4 linked regions of the Homo sapiens genome follow. The protein of the gene in region 1 interacts with the protein of each later gene in a pairwise test. Each region holds a gene or a part of one and is shown on either strand. Other genes may lie near its edges. The genes, in order: ASPA, UBQLN3, DUSP29 and UBQLNL.

Region 1 (7,028 bases):
ACAGAAGTGATCACTGGGCATACCCATTCTAACTCTGCTCTAAAAGCAAAGGAAGGCTTTCCTTTGAGTTGTGACCATAACACGCTGTGGGCCCTACATTGGACCAAACGTTCATCCTGTTTGCTCAGAGATAGCCTGGTATATGCATAAACTACTCCTTTTCCAAGTTTCTGGGAATTGGGTTGAGGTTGCTGCATCTTTGGAAGTTGGTCTCCACCACTGGCAGGCTGCCTGCATCACAAGATCTCATTACTCAGGAGCTGTCCAAGTGTCTAATGTACTTAGTTAAGAAAAAGAGGCTGGGCATGGTGGCTCACGCCTGTAATCCCAGCACTTGGGGAGGCTGAGGCGGGCGGATCACAAGGTCAAGAAATCGAGACCATCCTGGCCAACATGGTGAGACCCCATCTCTACTAAAAATACAAAAATTAGCCGGGCGTGGTGGTGCATGCCCATAGTCCCAGCTACTCAGGAGGCTGAGGCAGGAGAATCGCTTGAACCCGGGAGGTGGAGGTTGCAGTGAGCCAAGACCACGCCACTGCACTCCAGCCTGGGTGAAAGAGCGAGGTTCCATCTCAAAAAAAAAAAAAAAAAAAAAAAGGAAAGAAAAAGAGCACGATACTGAAGTCACCTCAGTTGCTGGAACTCCTCCTGAAAATATGCAGTCATAAAACATCATAGCTGGAAGGGTCCTCCAAGATAAGCTAATCCAATACCTTCATTTGACAGGTCAAGAAAGCGAGCCTCAAGAAGTTAAGCATCTTGTTCAAGGCCGCATAGCCAGGGGATTAGAGCCCAGGTCTCCTGACCCCTAAACCTAGATTCTTTTTCTCTCAAACTGGCTTTTTCAGTTCTGTTTTCTACCTCTGGCCGTCGGCGTGTTTGTGGACAGAGTGCTGATAGGAATCATTCAAGGACATCTTTTGGCCTAGTGCTGTTTATGAACATCCTTAACTAAACGTTATCTGTTCTCCCCATAGCTGTCTTCATTTTGTTATTGTTGCTGTTGTTATTATTGTTTCTTCCTTACATTGTTAACTTCCCTTTTTCCAGATTTTTTTTTTTTTTTTGAGACAGAGTTTCACTCTTGTTGCCCAGGTTGGAGTGCAATGGCTTACTGCAACCTCCACCTCCCAGGTTCAAGAGATTCTCCTGCCTCAGCCTCCCAAGTAACTAGGATAATCCCAACCTGGGTATTTTTAGTGGAGATGGGGTTCACCATGTTGGCCAGGCTGTTCTCGAACTCCTGACCTCAGGTGATCCACCCAACTCGGCCTCCCAAAGTGCTGGGATGACAGGCATGAGCCACCACACCCGGCCCAGAGATGTTTTTAGTTGCCATTGATACATATTGTTTTTGTCATAGGAAAAGAATTTCCTCCCTGCGCCATTGAGGTCTATAAAATTATAGAGAAAGTTGATTACCCCCGGGATGAAAATGGAGAAATTGCTGCTATCATCCATCCTAATCTGCAGGTAACATTTGTTCTTTCTTTAAAATGTTGAAAATAATAATGCTGTACCTTTGAATAGAAGTTTATAGCTCATACAGCACTTCGCGTACATTCGCCCATTTGATGCTCTCATTAGACACTGAGTGTAGATAGGGAAGATGTTCGGACTGTCGCTCAATAAATACTTATTCAGTGTAACCTGTGCTGGCTGTGTGGACACACCAGTAAGTATGGCCTGCACGCTCAATGGAATTTATAGTGTAGGTACACAAAAGTCTAACTTTAGTCTAGAAATGAAGACAGCCAGATGAGATGACAGAATAATGAGATGGGAGAGGAGTGGTCAGACAAGGCCACTTAGAGAAAGTGAAACTCCTACCCACATTCAGCGGGTGGGAATTATGATGTCTATTTTAATATAAGGAAATACAGGGACGGAAGTTAGAACCTTCCCACAGCCATGTAGCTATCAATGACAGATCCAGAGTTAGTGCTCTTTCAAGTTGGCCGCATCACTTGCTACCTCCCTGTGACAGAATAAGTTAGAGAAAAACGACTGGAACCTCTTTCTTCTGCCACCATTCCCCAACTCTCCTCAGAACCCCCAGAATCTACTCCTTGCCTAGTTTTATCAATAATGACATAGTGAAGAAGGAAAAAAAAAAGGCTCTTGAGAGAATGTAGGAGGTTTAAATCCGGAAAAGGCAAAGGGAAAAGGAGAGAAGAACAGATTTCCAAAGCCAAAGTATCCATTCCCCAGTGCAAGTGGCCTGCACACTCCCAGACCTCAGAGATGGAAGAGAACTGGTGGATTATCTAGTCCAGGGCTTTCAACCCCGACTAACCTTTACCTAGAGAGCTTTTAAAAAACATCATAATAGCAATGGCAGGACTCCACTCTGAGATACTCTGATCTTTTTGGCTTGGATAATCAGGATTGAAAAACACTGATTGATCCAGTTCCTATCCCTGTTTAGTGACTCTAATAGTCATCCAGACTTGCAACTGAATGAAGTGGCCTGCCCAGTAATACAGACGAGTGAAGCAAATCCTGCTTTGTGGCTTAATGGGACCCAGGTGGAAACCTGAAGAAGCAGCCTTAGGCAGTGTTTGTTTTTGTTTTTGTTTTTGTTTTTGTTTTTGTTTTTTGAGATGGAGTCTCGCTCTGTCGCCCAGGCTGGAGTGCAGTGGTGCAATCTCAGCTCACTGCAAGCTCCACCTCCCGGGTTCAAGCAATTCTCCTGCCTCAGCCTCCCGAGTAGCTGGGATTACAGGCTCACGTCACCACACCCGGCTAACTTTTGTATTTTTAGTGGAGATGGGGTTTCACCATGTTGGCCAGGATGGTCTCAATCTCCTGACATCATGATCCACCTGCCTCGGCCTCCCAAAGTGGTGGGATTACAGGCATGAGCCACCTTGCCCAGCCTTAAGCAGTGTTTTAAAGGAAAGGTAAAGACTGGGGGAGAGAAAGGAAGAAAGCACTATTGGTGACAAAAATATCAAGTACAAGAAACAGAGGCCAAGGTGATGATATCATGGCAGGCTAAAACAGGATTTTTCAGGTTTTAGGATACTCTTGAGGAGTACAAAAATAATCCCAGGCAGACGGAGAAGTGAGATGAATGAGATCAGTAGCAAACTGGGCTAGTGGTAGGTCTCGAAAGTTAGGAAGGATGGTTTTGATTTGACAGACAATAATGAATGGCTCAGTATTCTACAGGAGGGATTGATTGGTTAATTCTGCCAACAAATATTTTTGAATGACAACTAAGCTCATTCTGGGCCTTGAGATTCAAGATAGGGAAGGTTCCTCATGGAGCTTCCATCCCAATGGGTGAGGAGAACTGACCATGAATAAGTAAACAATATGTAAACCAAATCATTTCAAACTGTAATAAGTGCTGTAAAAGAAATACACAAAATAATATAGCAGAGGGTATAACAAAGGGTTCCAATTAGACGGAGTGGTCACAAAGTGCCATCTCAGAGATGGTGGCACTGAAGTTGGAACCTAGAAGATGAGAAGCCAGCCATGTGGAAGGCAAGTGAGAGGCCCTGAGGCTGGAACAAACTTGGAGCATCTGAGGAACAGCAAGAAGACCCATATCCCTGGAGAGGAGGAGTGAGCAGAGGACGGTAGAGCCTGGAGAAAACACAGTTCAGGACCCGGTTATGAGTCTAGATTTTGTCCTAAGAATGACAGTTCTTACTAAGGGATGCTAACTGGAATCACGTAGGGGACCCCCTCCCAGTGCCTAGAACCCACCACAAACTACTAAAGTAGCGCTTCTCAAACTTGAGCCACATGACAATTATGGGGAGCTTTTTAAAAATGCTGATTCCTGGCCAGGAGCGGTGGCTCACGCCTGTAATCCCAGCGCTTTGGGAGGCCGAGGCGGGCGGATCACGCGGTCAGGAGATCGAGACCATCCTGGCTAACACGGTGAAACCCCATCTCTACCAAAAATACAAAAAATTAGCCGGGCATGGTGGCAGGCGCCTGTAATCCCAGCTACTCGGGAGCCTGAGGCAGGAAAATTGCTTGAACTCGGGAGGTGAAGGTTGCAGTGAGCTGAGATTGTGCCACTGCACTCCAGCCTGGACAGAGCTGAGATTACGTCTAAAAAGAAAAAGAAAAAATGCTGATTTCTGAGTCCTCTTCCCAGGGGCTCTGATCTAATTCATCAGGGTGTAGACAGGGAATCAATTGAGTTCACCAGGTGATTTTCATGTGGCTCAGGTCTGGATAGCACTGCACAATGTCGGAATCTCCACAGGTGGGGCTAGCCAGACGTGTGTTGAAGAGGTTCCTTTAGTGATTCTGGGGCAAGTCTCTGCCTGAAAAACCACCGGTTCAGAGAAATAGTTCTCAGCCGAGCCACCCTGTAAATCATCTGGGGCCTAAATACAATAAACACAGAAAACAGTGAACTATAAATGGGTAGCATGAGGGATTCGAGGAGGTGGCTGAAAGAAGCACGTATCCTGATGGCATGGTTGCGGGTTATATGACTCCATGCTCTGCAAGTCAGAACTCATAGAACTGCACACAAAAATGAGCGAATTTCACTGTAGGTAAATTTAAAAATAAAATATAAAAATAATGATGCCTAGGCCCTCCTCTCAGATTCTGATTTGATTTATCTGAAATGGGCCAGCCCCTCTACCTGTATATATGTATTTAACATCCCAAGCGATCATAATGTGCCACCAGGATGGAGAAAACTGCGGTGATGCGGCACTTCCCAAACACTAATGTCGTGCACGTGAACGTCAAGGACCTGTTAACATGAAGATTTTGATTTGGTAGGTCTGCTGCGCATAATGAAATCCTGCTTTTCTAACAGGCTCCTGGGTGATGCGGATGCTGCTGGGAAATGTTAGACATGCAGAATCCCAGGCCCCCACCCCCAACCTATAGAATCAGAATCTTCATCTTAACAAAATCCCCAGATGATTTACAAGCACCTCAAAGTTTGAGAAGAACTGTTCTGGGGTTCCCGTGGTGTGACAGCCATGGTGCTTGAGGGCTCAAAGGTCCAAATCCCTGGTGCGGGACCCTTCAGATAACTCAGTTGTTACCCTAATGTAGGAGCACATTTGGAATACACCCACCTTGTCCCAGACTCTCCCCAGCCCAGCACCACCTTCTCTCACCAATCCCCGTCAGAATAGAATCTCCTTGTATGCAGGTACAACATGGCTCATTTTTATATTTCCCAACGGTAGAATGTCTTGCACACAGAAGACTCCTAATGGATATTTCCTAAATTTTGCTGAACAGAATTTAACTTGAGCTGGCAACAGGCAGACTATGCACTTAGGTAGACATGCATTTAGTTTTGCCTTTTAATATTATAAATCTCTTTGGCTACATTCAAGGTAAACCTGGTATTGAAGCAAACTCTTTTTTATTTTTTTTTAGAGACAGGGTTTCATTCTGTCACCCAGGCTGGAGTGCAGTGGTGTGAACATAGCTCACTGTAGCCTCAACCTCTGGGGGCTTGAGCAATCCTCCCACCTCAGCCTCCTGAGTATCTGGGACTACAGGCATGCACCACCACACCCAGCTAATTTTTCGTATTTTTTCTAGAGATAGGATCTCTGTGTTGCCCAGGCTGGTTTTGAACTCCTAGGCTCAAGCGATCCACCCACATTGGCCTCCCCAAGTGCTGGGATTACAGGCAAGGAGCCACTGCACCTGGCTGAAGCAAATGTTAATTACACGTTTCAATTATACAAATGCAAAGGGGAACTCTTAAAACTACTGCCAAAATTCACGACCCAATGTCAGCGCAGTCAGATCACTTGCCTGCATCTCAATGCCTCGCTCAAGTATCTCTTTTAAAACAACAGAATACTGTAATTTGTTAGTTGTCTAGAGTCTGACATAAATTTTTAGAGGAGAAAAACCAAATATAATATATTTATTTTGATTGTTTCCTGAGAGGATCAAGACTGGAAACCACTGCATCCTGGGGATCCCATGTTTTTAACTCTTGATGGGAAGACGATCCCACTGGGCGGAGACTGTACCGTGTACCCCGTGTTTGTGAATGAGGCCGCATATTACGAAAAGAAAGAAGCTTTTGCAAAGACAACTAAACTAACGCTCAATGCAAAAAGTATTCGCTGCTGTTTACATTAGAAATCACTTCCAGCTTACATCTTACACGGTGTCTTACAAATTCTGCTAGTCTGTAAGCTCCTTAAGAGTAGGGTTGTGCCTTATTCAACTGCATACATAGCTCCTAGCACAGTGCCTTATTCGGTAGGCATCTAAGCACATTTCTTAAATTAATTAATATATCTTTAAAGATATCATATTTTATGTATGTAGCTTATTCAAAGAAGTGTTTCCTATTTCTATATAGTTTATTATACATGATACTTGGGTAGCTCAACATTCTTAATAAACAGCCTTTGTATTCAGAATATAAAATTGAAATAGATATATATAAAGTTATTTGTTTTATTGTGCTTTGCCTTACTACACTTCACGGATACTGTACTTGTACTTTTTTTCCAAATTGAAGGTTTTTGGCAACCCTGTGTCTAGAAAGTCTAACAGTGCCATGTTTCCAACAGCATGTGCTCACTCCTTGTCTCTGTGTCACCCTTTGATAATATTTCAAGCTTTTTTATGATTTATTTATTATATCTGCTATGGTGATCTGTGATCAGTGGCCTTTGATGTTACTGTTGTTAAGTGTTTTGGGGCACCATGAATCGTGCCCATGTGAGACTGCGAACTTAGTGAATGTTGTGTGAGTTCTAACTGCTCTACTGACCGGCCATTTCCTTGTCTCTCTCCCTGTCCTCTGGCCTCCCTGTTCCTTGAGACACAATAATTAATAAGTCTACAGCAGACTCTGTGTGTTCAAGTGAAAGAAAGGGTCATACTTCTAGAAATTAAGCTTAGTAAGGAAGGCATGTCAAAAGCTGAGACAGGCTGAAAGCTAGGCCTCTTGCACTGGTTAGCCAAGTTGTGAATTCAAAGAAAAGGATCTTGAAGAAAATTAAAAATTCTACTCCAGTGCACACACACAAATGATAAGAAAGCAAAACAAC
Region 2 (6,946 bases), on another chromosome or scaffold:
ATCAAATCCTGGAAGTGCAAGCTGCTTGGGGGATAGTCTTCAGGGGAGATAAAAATAAGAAACTATAACCACTTTTCAGTCAGGCTAGTGGTAGGGAGCTCGGAAAACCAGAGCACCTGGTAGCAGCTACTACAGGACACAAAATCTGAAGAAACGCTGAAAGAACACTGGGAAAGTTGCAGGCCTCGACCTTCAAAAGGTTGCAGCAACATTTCCTCCTCTGTTCTTCATACCTGTGAGTCTTCTAACTTCAGACCTTTTAGTTTCCCTCCAAGTCCTTCCATCCATGTAGAGACAGCCCTTATCACTACTTCTTCTCCCATATCCATCCTTTTTCTCATAGCCCACATGAATGAGACTCAGGCAAGAGTTCACATTGGAAATTGGGTGTAATTGCATCTCAAGATAGGCATAAGCAGAGCTTAGACTGGGGCCCCCCAGTGGTATAGTGGTACAAGTGGTTGACTCACACACAGCACCTCCACTATGTTTTGGCCATTAGTCTTCCTCGTTGACTCTGGAACAACATTGCCTCCACAGCAAAGGACTTCATAGTAAATTTGGTTTATAATGCAGCTGTATTCAAAAATGGGAGAGCTAGGGAACTAGGATATGGGAAAAAGGCACAGAGGAAAACGTATGGTTTGAATGAATAAGGCTCCTACGACTGTCTCAGCTTCTCCACAGCAGCATCCACGTCGCCCCCCGTAGCAATGAGGGCCTGAAGATTGGCTTCACGATTCAGAAAGCCCATGGACCGCAGTTGCTCCAGCTGCACCTGAAAGTGAGCCTCAGGCTGCAGCTGCTGGGGATTTGTACTAACTAAATCTTGCAGCATATGGAGAAAGGGAGGGGAAAGGAAGCCCAGCTCTGCAGAGTCCAGTGCTGGGAACACCTCAGGAGGTGGATTTGGGAGAGGATCCTCAGACATAAGGGGATCTTCTCTAGACTCTATACCTCCTGCCACACTACCCGTCCCTGCTAGGCAAGGCATGAACCAGAGTAGGAGGCGAGGTGCTTCAGTAGCTAGGACCTGTAGACCCTGCTCAATCTGCCGCAGGGCTTGCAGGGCACGGGGGTTTGCCATGGCTGCCTGAAGGTGCATCAGCAGTGGCAGCTGTGGTTGTATCTCATCCTGTAACTGTGGAGCTGGATTCATGCCATCTGGCCTCAGAGATCTTGGATAAGCCGGGGATGGCAGCCAGGGAGGCTCAGGGATTCCAGGAATGGCTGCCGTGGGGGAAAAAGATAAGGGAGCAAATGGAACCCTGTTGGCAGAATCTCCCAGCCCCGAGACAAGATCAGGCAAGTTTGTGCTATGTCCAGTAGAGCTTTTCCCTGCACCATCTTGGTCTCCACCTTGTCCAGTACTGTTCTCTGTGGGGTATCTCAGGAAAGCTGGGCAGGAGGACCTTCCCTTGATTGCTACTGACTCCTCGGGGAGAGGCTGGCCTGACCCAGGCTCCTGAGATGAGGGTGACGATGGGGGAACTCTGTTTACTGATGGTGGTGGTTCCTGGCTTTGGCTGAGGGCAGATGCAGTCCCCTGTAGATAAGTTCCTAGGGACTGGGGGTTCTCGTGTAATTGCTGGAGATAGTCATAGAGCCTTATAATACCCAGAAAGTTTGGAAACCTATTTCTAATGTCAGGTGCATCCTGATCCCCATCCTGCCTTCCTTGCCTGCTACCTGAGCCTCCATGTGTGGAAGTCCAGGGGTTGGGGAGAGGGTCACAATTCTCCATCCTTGAAGGTTGGCTGGTGGTGGTGGTGGCATTATCAGTAGTGGCAGTGGCAAAGGGATTGCCGCCAAACTGCTCCTGGACTGCGTTAAGCATTGGGTCCATAATATCTGTGTACATAGTGCAAAGCACATTGTAGCCACCAGGAATGCTCTCCAAGTTACTGAGCACCCGGTCCTGGCTACGTATCATCTCCTGCATCATGGCAGGGTTACGTAAAAACTCCAGTGTCTGCCGCATAATTTCCGGGTTGTTAAGAATATGCCCAATCTCAGGGTTGTGCTGGATCAGCTGCTGCATATGGGGGTTGTCAAGAACCAGCTGGCGTACTAGGCCTGTGTTGGACAGCAGACCCGGGATGAAGGGGTCATCAATGAGCTGAGTCACAAACTCAGGCACAGACACATGCTGCCGCATCAGGGAGCTTGGCTGGTCAGGGAAGCCACGATAGGCCAAGCCCAGCCTACTGAGGCCTGTGAGGAGACCTAAGCTAAAGGCAGGGGGCCCATCTGCTGGGTAAATGGAGCTTGGCTGAGGGAGTGATCCAGGACTTGGGCCCTGGGTAGGGACAGAGGCAGCTGGGCACTCATTGCCCATGGCACGGTGCTGCCTCTTGATGACCAGGTGGACAGTGAGGCCATCTCGCACTCCACACTGTGCCAGTGAGTCAGGATCCTTGAGGATTTTGCCAGCAAAGATTAGAACAAGCTGATCGGGGTGGGCCTTAAAGCGCTGAGATATCTCTTCCTTCAGCTGCTGGATAGTGCATGTGTCTGTAACTGAGAAATCCTCCTTGTCTTTGGGCGTCTTCACTGTCACCTTGATGAGGTGGGGATCCTGGACTGGTGCTGGGCTGCCCTGTGGCAGGGCTTCTCCACCTTTGGCCATGGTGGCAGCAGGAGGCCCAGATCTGTGGGGACACAGCTAGGGGCATGGGGATTGGAGACCAAGATCATCCTTTCAGGCAATGGCAAAAGTAGGAAGGGTGAGTATGAAAAGGGTCTTGAATATCAGGATAGGGAAATCTGCAGGGTCTACATGAAAGGGGCCATGAGGTTTCTGGGGCAGGATGCTTTAGGAAGATTGCGGGATTGAGATATGTTGGAATCAGGGGAGGGAAATGCAGGGCCCTGGGAAAGAGGTCTGTAGTTGATGAATACAGGGACAAAGGTAGAAGGAAGGGCCCAGCTGGGGTGTACATACCAGTCAGCTGTGGTCCCGTCCTTCTCTTTATGCAGGGCTCCAAACCTCCCTCATCTTGCTACACAGCCACCCCTGAGGCCTTCTGGGCCAGAACCCGCACTATCAGGTCCCTTCTGTGACCTCAGTGCTGACGTCACAGCCTCACACAGAGAAGATTCTTGAGACTTCTCTAAGGAGCTCGGGATCCCTGGGAACTCTTGCTCTCCCATCTTTTACCACTTCTACTTCCTCCACCTCAAGTGCCTTCCTGTGGAGACTTCTGTGGAGGCTCAGACTGGGATTGGAATGTTATAAAACATCTCTCAGTCCTCTCTGTCTCCATTCAGACCCACATTCAGCTACTTCCTGGTCCAGGGTCTTCTTCCTGGTATCCTATGTCCCAGTTTTCTGTCTTATTCAACATTAACCATGAATTCTTTACGTATTTTCAAAGTATTGATTCGCTGATGGATAGGATTTGGGGTATAAGGGAGGAGTCAAGCATGAGATAACTTTTTTTTTACTTTAAAAGAAATTGTTATCCCCAAAGGAACTCAAAGGATTGAATATTTACTAAGACAAAGATTGGGAATAAGCACTTTGTCTAAATTAGCAGGTTGTTAAACAGTTTTACATACATTTGAGATGTCTATTTTACATACAAATGGAGATGTAGTATTGTAGTTTAATATTATAAGTCCAGAGTTTATTAGCATTCAAAGGGTACTTAACATCATGGACTGGTTTAGATTAGCTAGTTAGTGCATACAGGCAAAATGATAGAGATTTTAAAATCTGAGTTTTGTGGCTGTATAACATTTAGAAATCTGGAAGATCAGAAGAATTTGGCAAAGGAAACGGAGAAAAAATAAAAGAGTAAGGTAGAAAAAAAGAGAGAGAAAAGAGAAAGGCCAAAGGAAGAAGAGTTTCAAAAAGGAGAGAGTAACCAATCATGTGAAATGATGCTGCTAGGTCAGGAGGATGAGGATTGAGAATTGGCCACTGGATTTGAAAAAATAAAGAATTGGAGACCATGATGAGACTAGCTTTGGAAGGATAGTAGAGGCAGGAAGCCTAATCAGAGTGTGTTTAAAAGCAAATGGTTTGGGAAAAAGTAGATCCAGTTAGGGCATTTTAAATGCAAGAAAGGGGATGACGGCTATGTGGGGATGTGGGGTTAAAGGCTTTTTAGATTTTTTTCTTAAGAATAGTGTAATGATGTTTATATTCTGATAGAAACAATCCAGTGAGTAGAAAAAATTGATGCATGAGAAAGGGAAAACTATTAAGTTCTTGAATAGATAAGTTAGAGAGATTGGGAGCAAGTGCCTATGTGGAGAGCTTGATTTAGGAATATGAAGTTTATTCATGATAGCAGAATGAATGGGAGGCAGAGTGTATTGGGACAGTTGTAAGCTAGTTGGTTGATTTCATGGTAGACACAGGTAGAAGTCCCTTCTGATTATTACTGTCTTTCTTGTTGAAATAAGCACAACTTTAAGATTTAGAATAAGAAATGGATATTGAAGATCTGAGAAGAGAAAACAAGATATGAATTGATCATCTGAAAGAATAAGTGTTAGGTTTTGAAAGGAAGGCAAGGCTTAAAGAAAGACACACACACAGCAAATGCAGGGTTTATGTCTAGCATAAAACCTAGAGAAGTGTGGGACCAGCCTAATGCCAGAGCCCACCACTGCTTACAGGCTGGGGTAATTTATAGGTATGGGAGGGAGGGGTCTGGGCAGTATGGCTTGCTGCCTGGCAGGATATTGATAAGATGTGCTCATGATGAGGCAGTTTGGTCCTTGTTTCTGTAGGATGTCATCGTGGTGTTCAATGGACCTTTGCGCAGCAAGATATGATAGGGATGTTGCTTTAGTTGGACCTTTGTCTGCCTTGTGGTCAGGTGGTTAGGCAGGATGTTTCTCACAGCCTGAACCCCCGTGAAATGTTTCACTTTGACCAAGGTCTGCAAAATAGTGGGAAGTTTACAAAATGGTGCAGTTTGGACTAACAATAAGGTAGTGAATTAACTAGGATAGTGGATTTCCAGGTATGATCTCCAAACTGACAGCATTAGCATCACCTGGAAACTTATTAGAAATTAGAGATTTTAACCCAACGGTAGACCTACTGAATCTAACACCCTTGGAATGTCGGGCAGAAATCTGTGTTTTAACACGCCCTCCAGGTGATCCTGGTGCAGATTCTGGTGAGAATCACTGGACTGGGAAAATGCAGTTAGAATTACTAAGACGGTAATTAAATCTTTTGGTAATAAGTTTAAATGAAACTAGTCAGCACAGCTGTATGCCGTTTTTTGCCTAAACAGAGACTAGGTGAAGAGTTGAGTATCACCATGATAAGTTAACTAGGCAAGTATTATGCCACAATTATTATCTTCATGCATCATGAAATAATCTTGGAGCCAGAAAACTGGGCTGAGAAGCAGCAAGATGGTGCAAGAGTGACATCTATCCACTTCCAAGTCCAAGGGAAACACAGATGTAGCCACTGCTGGAGAAGCAGTGTCTTCACTAGACATTCAGATCTCCATTATAGCAAAAAGGTGTAGTCATCCTTAGGAAGAAGGTTGTAGATATGTGGGCTTTTCTATTGCTAAATTATGACTTCTAAATGGTAGGATGAAGAGGCTGGAAAACTGGTGACGAGTAGAAAAATGAGTCAAGTGAGGAATTTTCAGAGCATATTGTGATGAAAATAAAAAAGATGACCTGGATAGCCTGAGCTTTTTATGCAAGCTGTAGCAAAGAGGGTATGAAGCTTAATCATATTAAATGGGGAGGTAAAAAATCCATTTTCACTGTAATTTATTTATTGAGACTTATCTTTTTGGTAGGTGTAGACATGAAGTAGGGGTCTTTGGCAGTGAGCTTTCTAGAAACACTTGGAAGTTTGTAGGCCCGCCCTTCACTCTTACCGATGGCCATGTTGGGGCTCAGAAGGGGTGGTCTGTTGAGCACACAAATCTCTGTGGATGGGTCCCCTTTAGAGTCCAGAATCTACTCCTCAACACCTCCCCTGCTCCCACCCTACTGCAAGAAACTACTGTTTCTCAACTGCTCTATCATAAAAGCCTCCTAACTGGTTTCCCTGCTTCCCTGGTTTTCCTCTACCACAGTCCATTCTCCACTCTGAAGCCAGACTGATAAATTGAATTATTTGATTTATTTGCTCAAAACTCACCAGTGACTATTACATTCACAGTAAAATCCAAAGTTTTCACCAGACCTATAAAACTTTTCACAATCTCTCTGACTTCCTCCCCATTCCCCGCTCCTTTTTGTCCATTTCAGCTACATCACCTCCTTGTTATTCTTAAAACATAGCAGGAATACTGCTACCTTGGGCCTTTTACTTTCAGACAGCCCCTGGATCTTCCTTCTCCCAGTGAATTGCATGTTCAGTTCTCGTAGTTACTTCTGACTTCTGCTCAAATGTCACCTTTTCAGAGAGGCCTTCCCTCATCACCCTATGTAGAATATCTTATTCTGATTCATTTTTCTTCACAGCACTTACCACTTAACATAACTTGTATCTCCACAAAAGAAAGTAAAGTCAATAAATAAAGGATCTTTGTTTTTTTCACTGCTATTTTTTTCAATGCCTAAAACAACATTGAATTATTATGGTAAAAGTGTTTTAAATTATTTAATCATGGAATCATTAAAACACAAATAATTGCATATCCTGCCATGGTGGGATACTCTAGGTGAGGCAGAAAGAGAAAAAGGTGGGGCATTGGCAACCATGGAAAATGTAAACTACAAACATAAGATAGATATACTGAAGGAGGTGATATTCTTGGAAGGTGCTGTGCCCCATGGAGGGCTGGATTTGTGGTGACTGGGATATACAGTGGAGATGGCAGCAGCTGCATCTCTGTGTGCTAAAGAGACAGTAGAGACAGCCCATCACCATCTTATAATGGTGGCAAAATCAACGAGCAGGAGGTTCCAATGATGATAACTATTCATCCGGACTTGGTTAATATGTGAA
Region 3 (7,245 bases), on another chromosome or scaffold:
AGGAAAGAGTGGGTGGAGCAGTTTGGCCGGGGCGGAGGTCTTGGTAGGGAAGCTGTGGCGGAGGAGATGGACTCATGTGAGCCTGAGCATTGTCCTGTGGGTGACAGGACCCATCGCCTCCTGCGTGACATGCAAGAGAGTAGGAGAAAGGACTCTCCCCAGCTAGTCAGCCTCTGGTCGCTGTGTCAGGCTGCTAGGAGATCTGACCCCCTCGTTACTGTGGAACGGGTAGGCCCAGAAACGTGAATGGTCACCAGAAGAGGAGATTAAAACACCATCTGCTCTGAAATCAGGCCGAAGAGGACAAACAGCTAACTCCTGGCCCAGGAACCTGGAGTGGCTGTTTCCAGGCCGGGCCTCCCTGAGACAGGGGCCCTGGTTGGAGTTTAGGGGTTGAGAGGAGTAGGAGAGTGAGATGCCACCAGGCCTCTACCCCAATGAGAGGCACCAGAGCAAAGGGGCTACACCCCGAAACTCTGAGGCACGCTGGGTTCTGGCCTCTGCCCCTGTTTAGGCTGCATGACCTTGGGCAGAACACTTAGTATTTGTGTCTCCGTGTCCAATCTGAAATGGGGCTGTGCTGTCCATCCCTCATTAAGCTGCTGCAATTCTGAGGAATAAATGATTCCTGCTTGTCAGGAAAGCTCTTGGAACAGTGCCAGACACATAGCACAGGAAACACCGCCAGGCCTCGGGGCCGCAGTGTCTGGGGAAGGCTTGGTGGAGGCTGCTCACCCCCACCCTGGTGGACTCAACTGGGCCTCCCTGGGGCTGCTGGAAGATGCTCACAGCCCAGCCCCTGGCCTCAGGGCCTCCCCTAAGCCCCTCATCTACTGTGGGGTCAACAACAGCCACGGGAGTGCCACCCGCAGACAGGACCAGGTTCCCACCCAACCCAGGTGTCAGCCATGACTGAAATGTCCCCAGTAAGGGCTCCAGTTTGTCTGATGGCAGAGGACCACTGGCTCTCTCCTCACCCTCAGCGCAGATCTGCCTTTGCCCATGAAGATCCTTCAGAGCCAAGTGAGATCCTGATACCGGAGGAGGGCCAGGAAGTGCTGGGTAGAGAAAGGCAGGTCCCTGGCCAGGGCTCCACCTCCACAGACCCAGGTGAGGACAGGCACTCCTGCCTTCGCACCCAAATGTTATATTTTCCAAGACCACCCTGGCCCGCCACACCCCAATCCTGTGCCTATAAAAACCTGAGACACACAACCGGCTGGACGTACTGAGGAACACATAGGCAGAAGACACAAGCGGCTGGTTGTCAAAAGCGCGCCGGCAGAAGATCACGCCGACAGGCACTGGCAGGCCTGCAGGCCATTGACAAGCGGAATGATGCGGAGTTTGGCCAGAGCGGTTGGAGGAGAAGAGTCGGCTGCTGAGTGGCCCAACTCCAGGGAAAAACTGTCTCCCTTCTGGCTCCCCCATCTGCTGAGAGCTACTTCTACTCAATAAAACCTTGCACTCTTCTCCAAGCCCACATGTGATCTGATTCTTCCCCTACACCAAGGCAAGAAACCCCAGGATACAGAAATCCCTCTGTCCTTGTGATAAGGAAGGAGGTCTAATTGAGCCAGTTAACACAAGCCGCCTATAGACAGCAAACTAAAAGAGCACCCTGTAACACACACCCACTGGGGCTTCAGCTGTAAACATTCACCCCTAGACACTGCCATGGGGTCAGAGCCCCACAGCCTGCCCGTCTGTATGCTCCTCTAGAGGTCTGAGCAGCTGGGTACTGAACAAGCGAGCCACACCCCCGTCGCATGCCCTGTGAGAGGGACAAAGGAACCTTTCCTGTTTCACTCCCACTAACTCTCCTCAGACCCACCCCATGTCCACCCCAGCCTCCATGCCCAACGCGCCTTCCTTGTTAAGAACTCAGCTCAGAAGCCCTTCAAGTGTTGTTTATTAATGTCAGAGTCCTCGGATTTGTCGGTGGGACCAAATGATATTCTCATGATGAGAACAAGGAGGGATCACAAGCTAAAGGTGGGGGCAGCGGAAAAAACATCCAGGGCCAGGGACCCTCAGGTGCTGGCGGCCGTGAGTGTGGCAACCTCTCCAGACATCCTCCTCGTGCCCTTCCTCCTGTTCGCTGGAGCATTTTCCGCTTTCCCGAACGATCAGAGCCCCCGGGCCCAACTGTTCTTGGGTTCCAGGCCCATGAAGGGACCCCTGGGGTCACAGCACAAGGGCACCAGGGTCTAATGGGAGAGCCCTGGTCTGAGACGCAGGCCCGTCCCACTTCCTGCCCACACAGGTCTGAGACACAGGCCCATCCCGCCTCCTGCCCACACGCGGTACAGCCTACACTCTTGGTCCAGTGGCTCTGATCCTTCATGACCCAGTCCCACCCCCCATCTCTACCACGGCAGCGTCATCCCCAACCCCATCCTCCCACCAGGACTGAGAAATGCTCCCAAACCCGCCACTCTGTCCAAATGACGCTTTTGTGTTACCTGGGACACAGGGAGAATTCTCATCCCTGGAGCTTTAAGTACTTTCTTGTCTTTGATGCTGCCCTACACAGGATCCGAGTCACTCCAGGGCCTCTCTCTCTCTCGCCCCCGAGATTTCTCCCCCTTTACTGGCTAAATGGACAAACGTAGAACCTCGTTGGAATGTGGAATATGATACAATACATCCAATGCTTCACAAGGGCTCGATGAGCTTTAATCCACCCCATTATCCTTTAGAAATGGTCGTTGAACTGGAAGTTCAGATTTGGAGAAAGGGAAATGGAGAAAATTCCATGGTGTCTCTCGTAAAAGGACAGCAAGAAACCTTTCACACTAGAAGGAGGTCGGCTATTCCCCACAGCACCAGGAACAGGGTGGAAAAGGGGCTTCTAATCCCCACACCCAGGCCCCCAAAGAACACGTGGGTGAACCCAAGGGGTGCCGGCCTCCCCACCCAGCGGCCTTACCTGGGTGTGCCGGGGCCTGGCCGCGTCGGGAGGTTCTGGTCCGTGGGGCATGTAGCAGCCGCACGCCCAGCCACCCCCACTGGCAACAGAGGCCTATTTTTAGGGTCAGATCTGCTGACGCTGACCTTGCGTGCCGTCCAGTCTAAGAGGAGACCTATGACATCTGCTTGCAAAATGATTTTCCAGTGCGACCTGAAACCCTTGACTTAGGAAGCCCTGTACCTGAAGCCTACACGCTTGTCCCCGGCCCAGCCACAGAGGCAGGACATGTGGCCACCAGGGCAGGGACAGACAGGAATTTTCCAACTTTGTTTTCCTGGGATGGACGAAGCCAGGTGTCTACAGGCCCTGCCCTGAGCCCTGTCCCAGAACAGCTAGAACAGGGGAGGTTTGCCCACTGGCACAGCTCTCTATTCCAGTCTTTTCTGAGAGTTTGTGGAGCTATCTCTGGGAGGCCAATGGAATGGATGCCACATCACACAGGGTAATCAATGAAACTCTGGGCAGAGTTTGTGCTGTGTGGCTTCCAGTGAGACCCCAGCAAGCACCCAACCATGCTGGGCTTCAGTGGGGATAATGATCATAATATCCTCCTCTTACATTGCTATGAGGACTGAATGAGATAAAGAATTTGGTGGTATTAGAATATTTAACAGTCTCCAGTGAGCCAAGATTGTGCCACTGCACTCCAGCCTGGGTGACAAAGCAAGACCCTGTCTCAAAAAAAAAAAAAAAAAAAAAAAAAAAAAATATATATATATATATATATATATATATATTTAACGTTAACAGTCATTAACAGTCGTTCCCAGGTCTCTCTTCTTGGCCCTTTCTTCTGTCAACCTTCCTCCTCAATGGCTCCAGAGTTCTTTGCTCTGGGATCCCTCCCACCAAGCCCTACCAATGTAGCCCCGCTTTTTAATACTTACGGGCAAAATCCTGCCCAGTCTCCTCTAATTTTCTAGTAAAATCTTCCCAGGGCTTGCTACAGTTCCTTATAATGAATGACGTGGTTCTCCATTCGTATCCATCCTTGTCATCCTCTCTGGGGCATGCTTTAGTGTGTGAAGGACTGGGAGAAGTAGGGAAGGAAGCACCAGGCTCCCACATCTTTCACTTAACACAATCTTCTTGCATTGGGGTCATTATATTGTCCTCTGAAACTTTATTCACCCAACCAAAGATCTTCCTCACAATTTGCTACATTAGCTACTGCCAGTTTAATTTATAGCAATTATTTCTACTAGTACTATTCATTGCTAAGTGACTTAGCTTTTATTGATTTCTTGGTGTGAGGAAAATTCCCAAGGCAAATACACAGAATCTGAGTGTACAATGAAGTCAGAATGTCAGAGTCCAAATGTCCCTGCTGTCAAGTGCTGGAGTCAAAACAGCAAGGTCGAAAGGCCCTTCTGCACTTACCCCAAGAACTAAGGGAGTCAGAGATGCTGGAATTGCCAAAGATAGAGAAGAAAGATTTCTCCTTAGCTGAAAGCCTGGGGGGCAGCCCCAGCCCCAGTCAAGGGCTGAGGAAGCAAAAGGGAGCTCTGAAGATGCAGCTTCAGCAGGGAGCAAACATAACATATCTAAAGACATCTGAGCTAGCTAGATGACTGAGAGAGGGAGAGAGAGAGTATTTCACACCATCTAGGAAACGTTCAATGACTTAATTTACAGGAAGTCAAGAGGAGAATTTGGTGGGTTGTTGGATTATCACCTCCAGTAAAGTAGACCCTACATGTGGTTAACCAGAAGACTGATGGCCCCTCCTCTAATCCTTCACACATTAAAATAGGCCCAAAAGAGGGTGACAAGGATAGAGAAGGGTTAAAAAAAAAACAACCATCATTTACTATGGGGAACTGAAGGAAGCCCTGGGAAGGTTTTCTTAGAAAAGAGTGGTGGTGGTGGTAGAGGATACCTGGTCTGTCTTCGAGGAGCTAAGGGGAAACACCAACATTCTCTGCACAACACTAAGGGCAGAACCTGGACCTTGGGAGACACCCCAAGAGCTGCCTCATGTAGATGAAGGAAACACACCATCCCATCAAGATGGGAGCGAGCCAGGTAAGCATCAGTTGGACTGAGAGATGTGTCCAATTGTTCCCAACTCCAAGGAGATTTCCTAGGATTCTGTGAAAAAGCAAGCTCCATTCATGCAGGTCAAGTATAATCCTGTAGAAACAACTGTTACTGGCTGGGCGCAGTGGCTCACACCTGTAATCCCAGCACTTTGGGAGGCCGAGGCGGGCAGATCACTTGATGTCAAGAGTTCAAAACCAGCGGCCAACAGGGGAAACTAACATATGAAGTTTGCCGTCCTGGACCCAAACTTTTCTGGGTCCAGAAGATCCAGAGGCTTTTAGTGCCCTGTGGATACCTGAATATGCATGGAGGCTGAGTCCAGCTGCAGCCCAGGGGAGAGGCCTCCCTGCCCACCCAGAGGCCGGATCCAAGGGCTGTAAGTCTGCAGCTCTCCCAGACGGCTCTCTTTTCCTTCACATTAAAAAGCAAAGCAAAGCAAGAGAAACTGAGGCCTATGTTCTGCAGGAAGTCCAAAGCCCTCTCCAACATCTCAGAGGACTGTTTATCCCTGGGAAAAGAATAGTAGGATGGCTCTCATTTCTCCAAAGTCAATTCTGCTGTGGCCTCTCCACCCTTGCTGGCACTCTCTGGCCTATCACTCCTACAACCTCATTCTGAGCTTGACACCACCATCTTCTATTATTCCTCCATCACTCACCCAAGGGATTGTGTGGGGCAGAGGGATTGCAGCACAGAGCAGGAGACAAGTCCACATTCAAGGTTTAACCTCCCCATTCTTTGAAAATTATTGGCTAGGCCCCATCTCCAAGGACTTTCTGTGTCCTGCTGTGTTCATGAGGCTCCTCTCTGTACATGCGATTGTCACAGCCTTCCTTTTTCTTCATTCGTCATCTCTCCCCTCCTCTCTAGAGCCGAGTGCCTCAACAGGCTCGAGAGTCCTCCTATTGTCATGCAGAGCAGCTCAACTCCCTCTTAGTCTCAACCTCCCAGGCAGACTAAGCCTAGGGTGCCCCCATTCTCATCCAACAAGCTCACCCAGGTGGCTTGGTGGCGGGTGCTTGTAATCCAAGCTATTTGGGAGGCTGAGGCAAGAGAATTGCTTGAACCCGGGAGGCAGAAGTTGCAGTGAGGTTGCAGTGAGCCGAGATTGTGCCACTACACTGCAGCCTAGGAGACAGAGCGAGACTCCGTCTCAAAAAAAAAAAAAAGAAGAAGAATATGTAGGTGCTTTGTTCTCTTGGGATCTGGCTTTCAGCAGTGGCAAAGTGTGACTGTAACTCTACCCATTTTTGTAATTAAAACCATCCACAGGCCACAGAGAATGCTTTTCCCTTTCTCTTGCTCTGTGTTCTCAAAATCAAAGGTAACTAAATATGAATTAAATGAAGGTTGGTGGGCTGTGCTGCCACTGACCTTGGAGGTGGACACTGCTTTGGAGTACTAGGAGGATTTGAGCTATGGAAGGGCTTCCCGGTGAAGAAAGGGGGCTTATTCTATTTGTCAAGTATATCTACTCAGATAGTATAAAGGACCTGGTAGCGCTGAGCGTCCTGATGTCTGTGTTTCACCTCACAGTTCTGGGGGCACTCCAGAATTAGCATGGTATTCTGACAGTTGCAATAGCTGAGAAATATTTTCGTATATTACACAGTTCATAGTGGTTTTTTGTTTGTTTGTTTGAGACAGAGTTTTGCTCCTGTTGCCCAGGCTGGAGTGCAATGGCACAATCTTGGCTCACTGCAACCTCTGCCTCCCGGGTTCAAGTGATTCTCCTGCCTCAGCCTCCCAAATAGCTGGGATTACAAGCACCCGCCACCATGTCCAGCTAGTAGAGACGGGGTTTCACCATATTGGCCAAGCTGGTCTCGAACTTCTGACCTCAGGTGATCCACCTGCCTCGGCCTCCCAAAGTGCTGGGATTACAGGCGTGAACCACTTCACCCGGCCCCATAGTGTTCTTTAAAGCATATATATGTAGGTCTAGATGTAATGAGCGTAACACATAATGACAGTTCTTTACATTGGCTACTAGACTTGTAAATAGTTTCATTTTTATAATATTTTATTTATTTATTTATATTTGTTGAGATAGGGTGTCATTGTATCACCCAGGCTGGAGTGCAGTTGTGTGATCATAACTCACTGCAGCCTCGACCTCCCTGGTTCAATCGATCCCCCCACCTCAGCCTCCCAAGTAGCTGGGACCACATCCGTGCACCACCACGCCCAGCTAATTTTAAAATTTTTTTGTACAGATAAGGTCTCCC
Region 4 (6,912 bases), on another chromosome or scaffold:
CTCATATTATTCCTGTTCCACTTTCAAACTTGAACAATTTGGGTTTGAGAAATTCAGGCAGTCTTTATGACTAAATATCTGGGCCTATCTATGTAAAATGTTTCCCTTTCTGTTTGAGCATGTTATGATTGTTTTCCCTACATATGGGTCTATTTATGTGTCTCTAGGTATTTGCATCTGTGTTTGCACATGGCTGTGTGTACTCATATGTGGACTCTATATGCCTGTATATGTGAATTTTTTACTATGTGAGCTTGTGTACATACACACACCTGTCCAAGGTGACATGCTCAAAATAATCAGTTTCATATACCATGCTCAAGTTTCATATACCATGCTCAAAATGCTCATGTTTTAGAGATAAAAACATTATTTTTATCTCTATATTAATATATGCATGTGGTTTGTGTGTTAATGTACATATAGTAGGTGAGACAAAAATCTCACACAGCTAGTTTTTTCTTTTTTTTTTTGCAAAAGAAGTAAAGCCAAACCTCAGATCGCAGCAAGTGAGTGTAGCCATTTTATTGACAGATGTTTCAGCCACGACCAATGATCTATTATTCAGTACAAGACACATTGGTTGATAACTCTTATTCCAGGACTTCTCCTGGCTGGAAGCATCAGGAAAGGTGCAAAAGGCAAATGAGATGGTCAGGTGGGTCAGCAGGCAGGTAGCAAGCAAACAAGTAGGCATGGTGGTTAGAATCTCTGGGATCTCTTGAGCTTGCGGATAGCAGCATTGGTGTCCCCTTCAGTAGCAATGAGTGCCTGTAGATTGGCATGGTGGTTCCCAAATCCCATGGCCTGGAGAGAATCCATCTGTTTGCTAAAACAAATCTCAGGAGCTTGCAGAGGGTGGGAAGGGTCCCCATCCGGGGATTGTAGCCTCTGCAGGACTGTTCCAGGCTTGTGGCAGCACTCAGGTCCCTTGGGCTCAGCTGTATCTGAAACATTCCAGGAACAGGGCACTGTGTCAGGATAGCTGCAGCTGGGGGCAGGAAGCCAACCCAGGCCCCATAGGTAGGGTGCAACCCAAGGCAGAAGAACAGGAGCCTCTGTGGCCAGCAGCTGGAGGGCCTGCTCAATCTGCAATATTGCTTGGAATGCTTTAGGGTTGCCTAAGCACTAAGCAGATCAGAAATCTGTGTCTGCTGCAGGAATGTGGGCAGCTGCTGCCTCCACTGTTCACTCAGCTGGGGCATACTTGTGAACAACATAATCTGAGCTGCCAGGTAGGGGTTGTTCATAAGCAACTGCATCATGCCTCCTGTGATCTGGGAGCTGCTCTGCTCATCTGACAGCTGGAGATCACCCTTTAATGTCTGTCTGGAGCTACTTAGAGAAACAGTGGCATCCTTGTATTCTTCTTGAAGCTGCTGGGTAAGCTCTATGCTAGGTAAGGCTGGTATCCAAGCTGGCTGCCGAGTGGCACAGATATGGCTCTGGCCCTTGGTGGAAATCATAGCAGTGTTGGCTTTGGAAGTGTGGTTGACCTTGTTAAGGGTGTCATTGGCTGAGGTGTTTGAAGAGAAACCACCAGAGCTATTATAGATGACTCGGGTTGCAGGATGCTGTGTGAGCTGGTCTTGTTGTTCCTGTGATGGTGGTGGAGGTGGGGGTGAAGACTGGACTTGTTCTAGCACTTGTCCTGCCAGGAGAGCTGTGAAAGGGTTTCCTCCAAAAGGATCTTGCATGCTGTTCAGCATTTGATCATTGATATCAGCATAGTTCTGACCCAGGGCATTATTCCCACCTGGCATTGTCTCTAAGCCCAGATATGGCTGTGGGTTCAGTGGATACTCAAGGTTTTGTGAAGGTTGTTGGATCTGCATTATCTCTTGGATCATAGCAAGGTTCCTGGCCAGCTCCAGAGTCTGCAATAGGATCTCAGAATTATCAAGAAGAAGGCGGGAAACTTCTGGGTTCTGCTGCATCAATTGTTGCGTGTCTAGATGTTCTGAAATGAACTGCCACATGAACTCCATGTTGGACAGAAGCCGCTGGATGCTAGGATTCTCCAGCATCTGTGCTTTGCACTCTGGGTGGCTCACTTCCAAGTTTTGGGTATGCACTTTGGGTGCATCAGACCCCACAAAGTGGGCCAGTTCCACTGGAGCTTGATTCATACCAGTTGGTTGGTGCACTCTGCTGCTGTTTCCTTTGGTGTTTCTGTCCCGGTGGCAGGGATCATTCGTTGGCAGGTCCCGGAAGGAATGGGCTAGAGATCTGGAGCCCTGCTTGGACTTGATGACCAAGTAGATGGTGTGGCCATCCATGATGCCCCTCTGGCTCAGTGTGTCATGGTCTTTGAGAAGGCAACCCATGAAGACCAGCACTAGTTGGTCCATCTGGCATTGGAAGTGAGCCAATAGCATCTCCTTGAACTGCCTTACCGAGATGTCATCAGCTACCATAAAGTCTTTCTGGTTGCCTGCAGTCTTCACTATCACTCGAGTGGCACTTGAAGAGATATTTTTGTCTGCCAGCAGACCTGATGGACATCCACTCTGGGACATCCTGGATGTTCGAGAGATGGCATGCCACATGGGCTTTAGTGGGTGGGCAGATGGGGAGCAGGTGGAAGCTGGGGCAGAAAGGGTGAGGGCAGACAAATGTTTCTGCTGGCCTTTGTCTCAGGTATTGTGCTCTCAGGCCACAGGATAGTTTCCTTGTTGCCCTAAAAGGGATGAGTGACCAGACTGGGGCCAGATATTTTGTGATGTTGTGCCCTCACCCCAGTTCTCCAGATGTGGCCCAGCTGAGGCCTGGCATAGCTACTGATTCATAATTCACCCATGGTGGACAAAGTGGTGATGACTTCTCCTAGGGCTACCCCTCCTCCTACCCCACCCACCAGGGGCATGAATCCTCAGAAAAGGGATATTGTGATGTCAACTCTATCCTCGCAGTCACCCTGGGCCAGCTGGGGAAGGAGGACATATTTAGGGGTCCAGGGCTCTACAATAAAATAAAATAATTTTCCAGAAAACAGGGACAAAGTTCTCTGGATGGAACTAGTAAGAAAACAAAAAAGTAAATAAAAACCATATTTTTAAATGTGGGATGTGTGTTTCCGTGTGATACTGTGTGTATGTTCCTTATAGGGATGTTAGACTTGTATGAAAAGTTGGGTCTACTGAAGCCATAGATAAAGCCACATTCCTATAAGAATGCAGTCTCTCCCATAGGAAGGAGCGCATTAATTTTTTTAATGATCTGGAAATTTGGGTCTTATATAGAGTCTAGATTTTGGGATTCTATATTTAATTGTGCTCCCATGTGGTGGGGAAAATTTTCCTCTGTCCTAGGAAGCAGGAGTAGGGCTAACCAGGAAGGCTCTTCATAGGCACATGCCAAACTAAATGTGAATTAGCTCTTTTTTATAATATGCCTTTTATTCACATATCACTTGGTCTCTTCTACATGTCAATATAACAGAAGTTTTAGAATGATTTGTTTCAATGTCCTAACCCACTCTTGTGTGCCCACCTTTATGTCAAAGCATTAAGGGGGAATGTCGTCTGTAAATCAAGAGGTGGGAGAGGAGGTGGTTAGTAGTAAAATTCTTAAGGGGACAAATACAGGCAACTAAAAAGCTGGATTCTTGGTCCCATGTAAATTTGGAGAATTGTGTTTGGTTTTTATTTAGATGCAGATGGAAATAATTATTTATATGAGTGAGAGTGTACATGTCTTATCGAATGTATATATGAAATTGTATGCATATTCTGTGTTACTAGGAAGCCTTCAGGGTCTGGATTTTATATATTCCATCCACCTGCCTGGAGAGGGAGGAGCACCACACAGATAGCTAAGGAACAAGCAAAAAGCTCGAGCCCATATGTTCCCAGTGTGTTGAAGACAAGCAAAGGGATGATAGGCCGTTGGCCAGGAGACCTTCTGCTATCAAACCAATGATTCTTTATTGAGAATATCTAGACCCCCAGCACCATCCATGTCAGATCCTCATCATGCTATAAGGCCAGTTGCTAACTTACTACAGCAAGACTCAGGCCTATTCTCTTGCAATTGCACTCAAAAGTGAGATCGATCCAGGACAATGAAAAATTGATTACCAGACCAAGATCTTGCCCCTTTTCTCCCCAGGGACCTCACAGGAAGGTGGAGATAAGAAAGGGAACTTTCATATCCTACTCTAATGACCAGCTGCCCTGCAGCTTCTGCACTGGAATCAGGTGTTCCCAACCTGAGATTGACAATTCTAGATCACAGAACTCTTGAGTTCCGGGAGCTGGATTTATGAAAAAAGGAATATGAGATGCCAAAGCATCAGAAAGAGAGGGTACCATTTTCTTAGCTAATATTTTACTTTTTCCCTATCAAATCCACCTAGACCATTATTAAAGGGAACCTTAATGTACTGATTGAGATATTAATTACATAAAGAACTCACTAGATATAATCAGTCTTCCAATCATTAGGACCAATGGCCACTTTGGGATGTGGTCCTCCTGGAGGTAAGGAAGAGGGCACACTTCTACCAATGCTCTGCCTAGCCCTGGGGTCTCAGGGTCTGGAAGCCTCGTTAGGTTTGACAGGTTTTGGTGGAGCATGAGCCCCAGAGGGCCTCCTGGTGGGTGGTCTTGGTAGCCTGGTCTTCATTGTCAGGAAGGTGAGGTCATAATTTATCAGGTAACCATCACTGAAGACATACGGCTTGTGGTCTGAGGGGCAGTAGTTGATGCCCTGCAGCTTTTCCAGCATCTTGTCCAACAGGATGCTGAGGCGGCGCTCCTGCCCGGTGGTGGTGTCAAAAGCATAGAAGATCTCCTCTTGGTGGGTGTTCAGTGAGTGTAAGGCATAGAGCACCCCACAGGCCATGAAGGCCCCTGACAGGGCTGGCTTGTACTGGCTGGTACGCCAGGTTTTCTCCACTTCTAGGGTGCTAGCGTTGAGACGACTCACAACCAGGTTGCCCTTGCTCTCCTCAGTGGCATAGAGAACCCACAGCCCCTTCTCATCACCAGCAAAATCTAAGTCCTTCCAGGGCACACCAGCATAGGAAAAGCGGTTGTTATAGGTGGCACCAGGCAGCAGACGCCACAGCACCAGTGTGTTGGAGGAAAGGTCCATTTTGGCCATGTCACTTGTGCCACAGTAGTTAAAGTACATAAAGTTCTTGTACACAACGTTTCCACTGCCATCACCATAGCCCATCTTCCTCTCTTCATAGTTTTTCAGCAGTGCGAGGTCATTATAGGATTTGCACAGCCGATAGTAGTCAAAGTACCTAGGCCAAGTCCCTGCATTCAGAATTATTGGGTGACAGCCATAACTAAGGTAACAAAGAGCTACAAAAATAGGCAGATCAGTTTGCTAATTAAGAGCAGGGGCTTTGCTATCAAACAATTGACTTTAGTTCATCTTTCACTTACTCAACCATGACAAACTAAACAATTATTTTTAAAAGTAACAGTAATAATAAAACACCAATAGCTACAGTGCCTATTAGACACTATATATGCACAATCTTATTTAATTATAATAACAGCACTGTAAGGTAGGTTTTATCCTTACAGATGAAGAGACTAAGTCTTAGAAAGGTTGAGTCATTTGCTCGAGGTCACACAGCTTATAAGTAAAAACTGTAAACAAAAGTAACAAGCTACTTTATTGACTGTTAGGACTGTCCAAAATAAAGCAAAGAAAACAATTAGTACAGCATTTGTTTCAATAAGCAATAAAAAATGGTAGCTATTATTTTTTCTTCCTTATGGAGATTCTTCTGTATCTACTCTGCACTGCCTTCCACCTGTCCTCAAGATGCAAGGGTCCTGTAACAGGACATATTTCTGGAGCTGGATTCAGGGAGATTTGTTCTCATGAGGTCACATTGGAAAGTTCCTTAAATTATCTCTGAGTTATGAGTAATCTTATCTCTTAACATTGTTCTGTAAGTCCTGATTACCTATAGATTTTGAGAGGGTTCCAAGGCGTGTAAATGTATTTTATAGGCTACAAAGTATAGCACATATGAGTTATATGCTACAAATTGTGGCCTATACAATACATTTTAGATAAGCATAGAATTTTGGGAATATTATTTTCAGTAATACTAATTTTCAGTAACACTGATCTTTCTGAGTTGAGCTTCAACTGGAGCTCTTCAATGACTGGTTCAACCTAGATTCATGTCTCTCTCTCGCAACAGGTCTATATCACATTTTCACACACACTGGCTTTTAACATTCTGTGTGTTGGGCCTACCTCCCTAGCAAGGTTGACAATGTATTGAAGGTCTTATTCGTCTATTTATTGACTCTTTTAGCCATTCTTTCATCTAATAAATACATATCATCACCTATGTTTTACATACTTTTCTATGTAATCTTATGTGATCTTCTCAAATATGTATAATTATCCTCATTTTACATATGGCTAAGAAAGGTTCTGAGATGTTAATTCATTTTCCCAAGGTCACTTAGCTTAAATGGCAGTATAGAGTTTCAAACACAGATTGGCTTAATTCCAAGTCTCAAGCTTGGCCAGAGACATGCTCTGAACTTCTAAGCAGGAAGTTAGAATTTTGAGGCCCAGGTGTAGAAGAGTTTGTTCTTTACATAGAATCAGAGTAGAAGTAGAACCATCTTTGAGTTACTATGGGATTAAAATTTGTAGGCAGTGGATTTGTGAAGGAAACTCAGGGCAGTCTGGGTCACGCTTGTCTCATGAGAAGAGCGTTAGGAGGTGACCTGTCAGGCCTAGGCTAGGTTTGCTTTGGGGCATACTTAAAATAGAAGAAACCAGCGTGGGGCTGTAAAGAACCCTGTTTGGGTATGGGTAGGGGACATTTGGAATTAATCCGATTGCAGAACAGAAGTCACTCAGGGCTCACCTGCCATCTGTACGTAGAGGAGCAACCCAGTAAAGGGAAGAGGCTGGATTGGG

Evidence for each region.
Region 2: the proteins of ASPA (region 1) and UBQLN3 interact in binary tests that used the Homo sapiens proteins (3 or more experiments, as listed by UniProt).
Region 3: the proteins of ASPA (region 1) and DUSP29 interact in binary tests that used the Homo sapiens proteins (3 or more experiments, as listed by UniProt).
Region 4: the proteins of ASPA (region 1) and UBQLNL interact in binary tests that used the Homo sapiens proteins (3 or more experiments, as listed by UniProt).

Annotation. Positions count from the first base shown.
Region 1 is NC_000017.11:3,492,984-3,500,011, forward strand, and holds part of ASPA (aspartoacylase), read left to right. Parts: intron 1-1,366; coding exon 1,367-1,476; intron 1,477-5,907; coding exon 5,908-6,105; 3' UTR 6,106-7,028.
Region 2 is NC_000011.10:5,506,930-5,513,875, forward strand, and holds UBQLN3 (ubiquilin-3), read right to left. Parts: upstream 3,029-6,946; 5' UTR 2,945-3,028; intron 2,699-2,944; exon of another isoform or gene 2,666-2,698; 5' UTR 2,630-2,665; coding exon 662-2,629; 3' UTR 371-661; downstream 1-370.
Region 3 is NC_000010.11:75,070,637-75,077,881, forward strand, and holds the start of DUSP29 (dual specificity phosphatase 29), read right to left. Parts: upstream 3,007-7,245; 5' UTR 2,933-3,006; intron 2,598-2,932; exon of another isoform or gene 2,466-2,597; intron 1-2,465. UniProt on the Homo sapiens protein: Dual specificity phosphatase able to dephosphorylate phosphotyrosine, phosphoserine and phosphothreonine residues within the same substrate, with a preference for phosphotyrosine as a substrate. Involved in the modulation of intracellular signaling cascades.
Region 4 is NC_000011.10:5,513,893-5,520,804, forward strand, and holds UBQLNL (ubiquilin-like protein), read right to left. Parts: upstream 2,808-6,912; 5' UTR 2,550-2,807; coding exon 1,122-2,549; 3' UTR 501-1,121; downstream 1-500.